Homo sapiens: one gene and its partner. The protein of the gene in region 2 purifies or fractionates together with the protein of the main gene of each other region. This does not show direct contact. Each region holds a gene or a part of one and is shown on either strand. Other genes may lie near its edges. The genes, in order: EPB41L5 and CRB2.

Evidence for each region.
Region 1: the proteins of CRB2 (region 2) and EPB41L5 purify together in Homo sapiens (pull-down; one study listed by IntAct). This does not show direct contact.

What each region holds. Positions count from the first base shown.
Region 1 is NC_000002.12:120,071,907-120,075,725, forward strand, and holds part of EPB41L5 (band 4.1-like protein 5), read left to right. Parts: intron 1-1,271; coding exon 1,272-1,314; intron 1,315-2,193; coding exon 2,194-2,272; intron 2,273-3,569; coding exon 3,570-3,614; intron 3,615-3,794; coding exon 3,795-3,819. UniProt on the Homo sapiens protein: Plays a role in the formation and organization of tight junctions during the establishment of polarity in epithelial cells.
Region 2 is NC_000009.12:123,362,695-123,366,513, forward strand, and holds part of CRB2 (protein crumbs homolog 2 precursor), read left to right. Parts: intron 1-170; coding exon 171-494; intron 495-3,222; coding exon 3,223-3,418; intron 3,419-3,532; coding exon 3,533-3,672; intron 3,673-3,819. UniProt on the Homo sapiens protein: Apical polarity protein that plays a central role during the epithelial-to-mesenchymal transition (EMT) at gastrulation, when newly specified mesodermal cells move inside the embryo.

The DNA of each region.
Region 1 (3,819 bases), on a different chromosome or scaffold from region 2:
ACAAAAGCCAGAATTGACAAATGGGATCTAATTAAACTAAAGAGCTTCTGCACAGTAAAAGAAACTATCATCAGAGCGAACAGGCAATGTACAAAATGTACAATGTACAGAAAATTTTTGCAATGTATCCATCTGGCAAAGAGCTAATATCCAGAATGTATAAGAAACTTAAACAAATTTTCCAGAAAAAAACAACCCCATCAAAAAGTGGGTGAAGGATATGAACAGACACTTCTCAAAAGCAGACATTTATATGGCCAGCAAACACATGAAAAAAAGCGCATCATCACTGGTTATTAGAGAAATGCAAATCAAAACCACAATGAGATACCATCTCACACCAGTTAGAATGGCCATTATTAAAAAGTCAGGAAACAACAGGTGCTGGAGAGGATGTGGAGAAATAGGAATGCTTTTTTTGGTGGGGGTGTAAATTGGTTCAACCATTGTGGAAGACAGTGTGGTGATTTCCTCAAAGATCTAGAACCAGAAATATCATTTGACCCAGCAATCCCATTACTGCGTATATACCCAAAGGATTATAAGTCATTCTACTATAAAGACACATGCACACATATGTTTATTGCAGCACTGTTCACAATAGCAAAGACTTGGAACCAACCCAAATGCCCATCAATGATAGACTGGATAAGGAAAATGTAGCACATATACACCATGGAATACTATGCAGCCATAAAATAGGATGAGTTCATGTCCTTTGCAGGGACATAGATGAAGCTGGAAACCATCATTCTTAGCAAACTAACACAGGAACAGAAAACCAAACACTGCATGTTCTTCCTCATAAGTGGGAGTTGAACAATGGTAACACATGGACACAGGGAGGGGAACATCACATACTGGCGCCTGTTGGGAGGGTGAGGGACTAGGGGAGGGATACCATTAGGAGAAATATCTAATGTAGATGATGTGTTGATGGGTGCAGCAAACCACCATGGCATGTGTATACTTACGTAACAAACCTGCACGTTCTGCACATGTATCCCAGAACTTAAAGTATTTAAAAAAAAAAAAAGTCATCTGTCAGGTTTTAGGTCGTTTTTGTTCACGTGTGTCATAAGCTTGCTATGGTGGATATTGGCTAGATACTCTTCCTTCTCACCTCTTTTCTCATTCACTTGGGTTTTTCTCTTGTGAAGTATTTCCTTGCGGTTATCAGTGTAGGCACAATGAAAAGTAACTTTTAGTAATTCATTCAAATTTTAAAGTTCTGTCATCTGCTTAACTAAATTTTTGTTTTTGTTTTTCAGCATTGGTTGGATGGTACAAAAAGCATCAAAAAGCAAGTAAAAAGTAAGTGCAGACAAAATTATTTGTGGGGGGGAAAGGAAATAGAATATATTAGAAATTCTGATTTCTAATAGGATGTAAGAAATCATGTTTCAGATGAGTTTTTTAGCATTTCCATTTTCTAGAAATTATTTTATTCTGATACACTGAGCTACTCCCCAAGTCATGTAGGCTTGATACTAATCTAGATTAAACTGCATTGGGGCTTAACTTTCCAGGAGAAAACCTTGCAGCTTGCAAATGGGATTGACTTTCCCCGAAATGCTTAATGGTTATTTTTTAATTAGTTGTGTTGGAATTTTCCTGTTTGGCATCTGCCCTAATATTGAAAGTATTTTGAGACTTTGTGATATTTTAAAATTAAGAAAAATGAAACAATTCACATAAAATGTTAGTGTCATTCAGAGAGAGAATACCATTGTTTATTCATTATCCAACTTGACTTTTTATCAGACTTATTAGGGCACCTCAACTCTTGTCTCAAAATAATGAGACCACTGAGATTATAGAAGTTAGTGAACTTGCTGAATTGTATTTGTGTGGGAAGATTCACCATGAGCAGTTAATAACATAGGCATTCTTCAGTGTAGCAGGTTTTCAGGGCTGTTAGGTTGCACAGTCAAGACTTTTATTTGATGCATTTGGCTCTGAACTGTTAGAATTAATCTATAGCTGTCTATTCTTGGGATGAGAGTTAATAGTAATATGATGGCTTGGTACATTAAAAAACAATCTAATTGAAGCCTATGATCTAACCTGCAATAATGCCATAAAAACCTCATCTTTTGTCTCACTTCAGTAGATTTTTGACCAGTTTTCTGGCTGAAAAGTATTATTTAAGTAGTTTATTTTATTAAAACCTTTTTTTTTTTTAAATGACAGTTGGTTCACCCTATTGTCTGCATCTTCGAGTTAAGTTTTATTCCTCAGAACCAAATAACCTTCGTGAGGAGCTAACCCGGTAAGAACACCATCTAGAATTGTGCCAGGGTTATTTTGATAGTTTTGAAAGACTGTCTTTATATTGTTTCCAATTTATAGCCAGCTAATAAAATGGATTCCTGTCCCCTGGTAACAAGACCTCAAATAATAGAATTTTATTCTGGGACGTGTTTTTTAAGTGTATGATTCTTTTCCTTTAGCATTTTCAAAATAAAGAGTTGGTTTCTTAGCATCCTCCAAAGGTGACTAGTGAGTTCTTTTTTTTAAGTATCACTCTCAACTCAGGAATGTTAACAGGATTCACATGTTTCAATACATTGCAATATTATATTTATTGATGTTGAAAATAATCTATCTTTGGCCACAGGGAGTTTATTCAAATTGGCGCCCAACTTTCTTTACTCATTGAAATGCCATTGATTAATGAAAAACATTAGATTCTGATTGGTTTGAATAGTTTTGAATAAACCTTATGTTGTATATACTTATTTTAATGTTATCCTGCCTCCTTTGTATTTATTCATGGTCTCTATTATAAATTCATTGCTCCATATACACATACTATTTATTAAATGAAAAAGTTGAGCTTTTGAGTTCCTTTAGAAGGGTTTCCTTTAGAACACCTTGACAATGAGATAGTAGCTATCATCTGTAGTTATATCCATGTCTGTATCCCTTCACATAACAAGTAGATGTCTCGCTCTGTCATCTAGGCTGGAGTGCAATGGCATGTTCTCAGTTCACCGCAACCTCTGTTCCCCCAGGTTCAAGCAGTTCTCATGCCTCAGCCTCCCAAATAGCTGGGATTACAGGCACGTGCTCACACCCCCAGCCAATTTGCGTATTTTAATAGAGACGGGGTTTCGCCATGTTGGCCAGGCTGGTCTTGAACTCCTGGCCTCAAGTGATCCACCCGCCTCGCCCTCCCAAAGTGCTAGGATTATAGGTGTGAGCCACTGCACCAGGCCTTTAATTAAGAATACTTCTAAGATCTAGTGTTAGATCAGTAGGGTGATTATAGTTTACAATTACGTATTTTACATTTCAGAATAGCTAGAAGAAAATAATTCAAATATTTCTAGCATAAAGAAGAGAAAAATATTTAAGGTGATGGATACCCCACGTATACTGACTTGATCCTTACAAATTATATGAATGTATTCAATTATTTCATGTATCCCCAAACTATGCACATCTTTTATACATTAATACAAGTAATTTTTAATGAAATAATACTTCTCAAGTTAGAAGTGTAAGATTTTTTTTCACAGTCGATTGTGCTGTTGGGTTAAATTTGTGCCTTTCATTTTTCTTAGGTATTTATTTGTTCTTCAGTTAAAACAAGATATTCTCAGTGGAAAGTGAGTATTAGTTATTTAAGGATAAATGCACATTTTCGTGAGTGGTTGAAAAATTATTTTGAAAATAAGTTTATAGTTGTAAAAAAGAAATGGTCAACATAAAACATGTATTATTTTCATTTGTCTTAAAATGAAGGTTATGAAATCAACTTGTCTAACAAACTTGTGTTTTGGTCTCAGATTAGACTGTCCCTTTGATACAGCA
Region 2 (3,819 bases):
ATGTGTGCAGCTTACTGGGACCTGGCTTGCAGACCCCTGGCCCTCTGTCCATACTGTGCATGCAGAGACCCACGTTGCTTTTGGGGTCTGGGGTGGGCCTGAGAGGGTGGGGAGGAGATTGTCCTTGTAACCTCTGCCCACCCTGCCCAGCCAGTTTCTTCTTTCTACAGGGACGGTGCCTTCAGAGCCCCCCAGTGCCTGTGCCTCAGACCCGTGCGCTCCAGGGACCGAGTGCCAGGCTACCGAGAGTGGTGGCTATACCTGTGGGCCCATGGAGCCCCGGGGCTGTGCCACCCAGCCATGCCACCACGGCGCTCTGTGTGTGCCCCAGGGTCCAGATCCCACCGGCTTCCGCTGCTACTGCGTGCCGGGTTTCCAGGGCCCACGCTGCGAGCTGGACATCGATGAGTGTGCATCCCGGCCGTGCCACCATGGGGCCACCTGCCGCAACCTGGCCGATCGCTACGAGTGCCATTGCCCCCTTGGCTATGCAGGTAACAGCCTGGGCCGCCCTGGGAGGAGGTCTGTAATGCAGATCGCATCAGCTGCTCAGAGTGTAAGCATCATGGCTTCAGCTTTGCCTTTCGTGTAGGGACGCCCCCAGGCATCCGGGCAGCTCTAGGGTATATCCACTTGGTCTGACTACAGAACTGATGCCTGGCAGCTCTGGGTGAGAGTATGTATGTGCGGGTGCTGGCGTGGTGTGTGGCGCATCTCAGGCACTCGGTAAATGTGATTTCAGTCCAGCCTAGAGTTCAGTTTGGCTGCGGGGGTGGAATACCCCTCATTCATCTCTGGCAGTGTGAACCTGCCTGGCGTGACTTTAGTGAGGATGCCCAGATAGTCTTTCTAGCACTTCAGGCCTGTGCCAAGCTGTCATGTAGACACTGTCTACACGACAGTCACCATCAGCTCATTTGAACACTCCTGATGTGGTCTGGAGTGCAATGTGGACCCCTGGCCTCTGGGTCTCCCCCAGAGTTCTAGCATAGACATACAAGGTCTCGTTCAAACTGTAGTGTTGACATACCCCAGGGATCGCTGCTGTCTGGAGTGGGATAATATATACGTAAGTGCTCAGAAAAGTGACTGGCACTAAGGGTACCTTCTCCAGAGTGTGGCCCGTCCCAGGCCCACCCATGGTCTGAGCCGAGAACATCCTGGAGCGGCTTCCCAGAGAGGCCTGAAGTCGGGAAGGAGGGCGCAGCTGGGGACAGAAGGGGCGCAGTCTGGGAGCGAAGCTGAGTCCAGGGCAGAGTCTGAGTCTGCAGTGTAGATGCTCTGGATCCTACTTCAATCCTGAATTCAGACAACTGTACTCTGAGGGCAGAGGGCAGTTTGAAGTCACTTCAGAGCAAGAGGTACAGATTGGGGGGCTGGGTTCCAGGGCAGGGGGCCTACAGCGAAGAGATGGCAGCTGATGAAGAGAGATTTGGGAAGCTGGTTCCATGCATCTTTCTCATCGTTCCAGTGTCTCAGCGTCTGGGTGTATTAGTGTACATGCCAGTGCAGGTCACATTCGTCCATGTGTCTCCTAGTTCCAAGTTCTGTTTTGCATCTGTAAAGATCTGCCAGTACCTGGGGGTGTCTGCAGTCTGAGTGCATGTGTGGGCAGTGGGTTGTTCGGGCAGTGGGTTGTGTGGGCAGTGGGTTGTGCGGGCAGTGGGTTGTGCGGGCAGTGGGTTGTGCATCCGGATGTGTAGCACTCACACACTTCGGGTGACTCTTCCTGGGTAAGCTGTGGATGTGAGTGGGGGCAGCATCTGCCGTGACTCATTCTCTCCTCTTTCCATTCCAAGCCGGGTGGGGGAGTTTGGGATTTCCAGACAAGGCCTGGCTCCCCCTGGCACAGAGGGTGGGAGTGGGGATGGGGAGGGAGGAGGGAAGGGTCATGGGAAGGTGGGGCCATGTTTTGTGCTCAATGAACTGAGAAGGGGGAGGGTTCCAGCTGGAGTCAGCTGGGCCTCTGGCCCCCGCTTGACCAAACCCACTTAGGGGGCAGGGCCTGCTGGAGTCTACAGTGACACGTGAGTCCAGGATGATCTCAGGCAGCGTATCTGAAACCCTGGGACTCCCCATCTCCCTTCCTCTTCACCATCACCCTGGGAGAGCCACTCAGCTGTCGTGATTCGCCCAGGACTGCGAGGGTTCTGGGGACTTGGTACTTTCAGTTCTAAAACCAGGACAGTGCAGGGACACTGGGAGGAGTGATTACCCTACTCAAGCATCTCCTGCCTCTCTGGGATCTGAAAGCCACCAGAGTGGACCTTCTAAAAAGTAGGTAGGGCCAGGTGTGGTGGCTCACGCCTGTAATCCCAGCACTTCGGGAGGCTGAGGTGGGTGGATCACTTGAGGCCAGGAGTTGGAGACCAACCTGGCCAACATGGTGAAACGCCTTTTCTACAAAAAAATACAAAAATTAGCCGGGTGAGGTGGCATGCACCTGTAATCCCAGCTACTCTGCAATCTGAGGCACAAGAATCACTTGAACCCAGTGGGCAGAGATTGCAGTGGGCTAAGATTGCAGCACTGCACTCCAGCCTGGGCGACAGAGTGAGACTCTGTCTCAAAAAAATAAAAAACAAAAACAAACCCAAAACAACTAACTAAAATGTAGGTGGGACCAAGTCACTTACCTGTCTGAAACTTTCAGGATGGACCCAGAGGTTACCTGGTCCCCAAGGCACTGACACCTCCCACCCGACTCACCTCCGCCACCCTCTCCCTTGCTTCCAACCCTCCAATAACCCCGCCTAGGGCATCATGGCCCTGCCCCTAGTGGAACTTGCCTCTTGCTGCAGTCTCTTTGGAATCCAACTGCTGCCCACAGTCCCCTATCTGAATCCTTCAAAAGCCTCTTCTTCTAGGAAGCCTTCCCTGAACAGAGCAGACCCCGGCTATTGCTTTCCCAAGACCCAACCCCTTTCCTTGTTGAACTTGGCAACATCACCTAGCTCATTTAGGTAATTACTGGCTGAATCACCCCCCACCATGTCCTGGCCTAGACTGCTGTGAGCCCCATGAAGGCAGGGCTGTCTGTCTCGTTTCTCTCCCTGCGGTTGCTGGCATGACCCGTCCCCCACCCCCCAACCACCACCACCACCATCCGGCTCTGAATGAATGAATCCACGAGTCTCTAACTCTGGAGCAGGCCTGGCGCGACCTCTTCCGCCCTGCTCTGGGTGTCCATCCTGCACCCTGTGTGTCCCCTGCCCTGTCCAGGCGTGACCTGCGAGATGGAGGTGGACGAGTGCGCCTCAGCGCCCTGCCTGCACGGGGGCTCGTGCCTGGACGGCGTGGGCTCCTTCCGCTGTGTGTGCGCGCCAGGCTACGGGGGCACCCGTTGCCAGCTGGACCTCGACGAGTGCCAGAGCCAGCCGTGCGCACATGGGGGCACGTGCCACGACCTGGTCAACGGGTGAGCGAGCGGCGGGGCAGGCGGCAGGGGCGCCGGGTGCCCGAGGGCGGGGAGGCCAGGCGCGGGGCAGAAGGGGCAGGCGCGCGCTCAGCTCCGCCGGTGCGCCCTCCCCAGGTTCCGGTGCGACTGCGCGGGCACCGGCTACGAGGGCACGCACTGCGAGCGGGAGGTGCTGGAGTGCGCATCGGCGCCCTGCGAGCACAACGCGTCCTGCCTCGAGGGCCTCGGGAGCTTCCGCTGCCTCTGTTGGCCAGGTGTGTGCGTGCAGGTGCGCGGCCTGGCGGGGGGAGGGGTAGGTGTGCGCCTGTGCGGCCTGGGGCGGTGGGGCAGGTGTGTGGCTGCACGCGAGTGCCCGCTGGGTCCTCGGGACCAGAGTGTGTGTGTGATTGCAACCTGTCGGA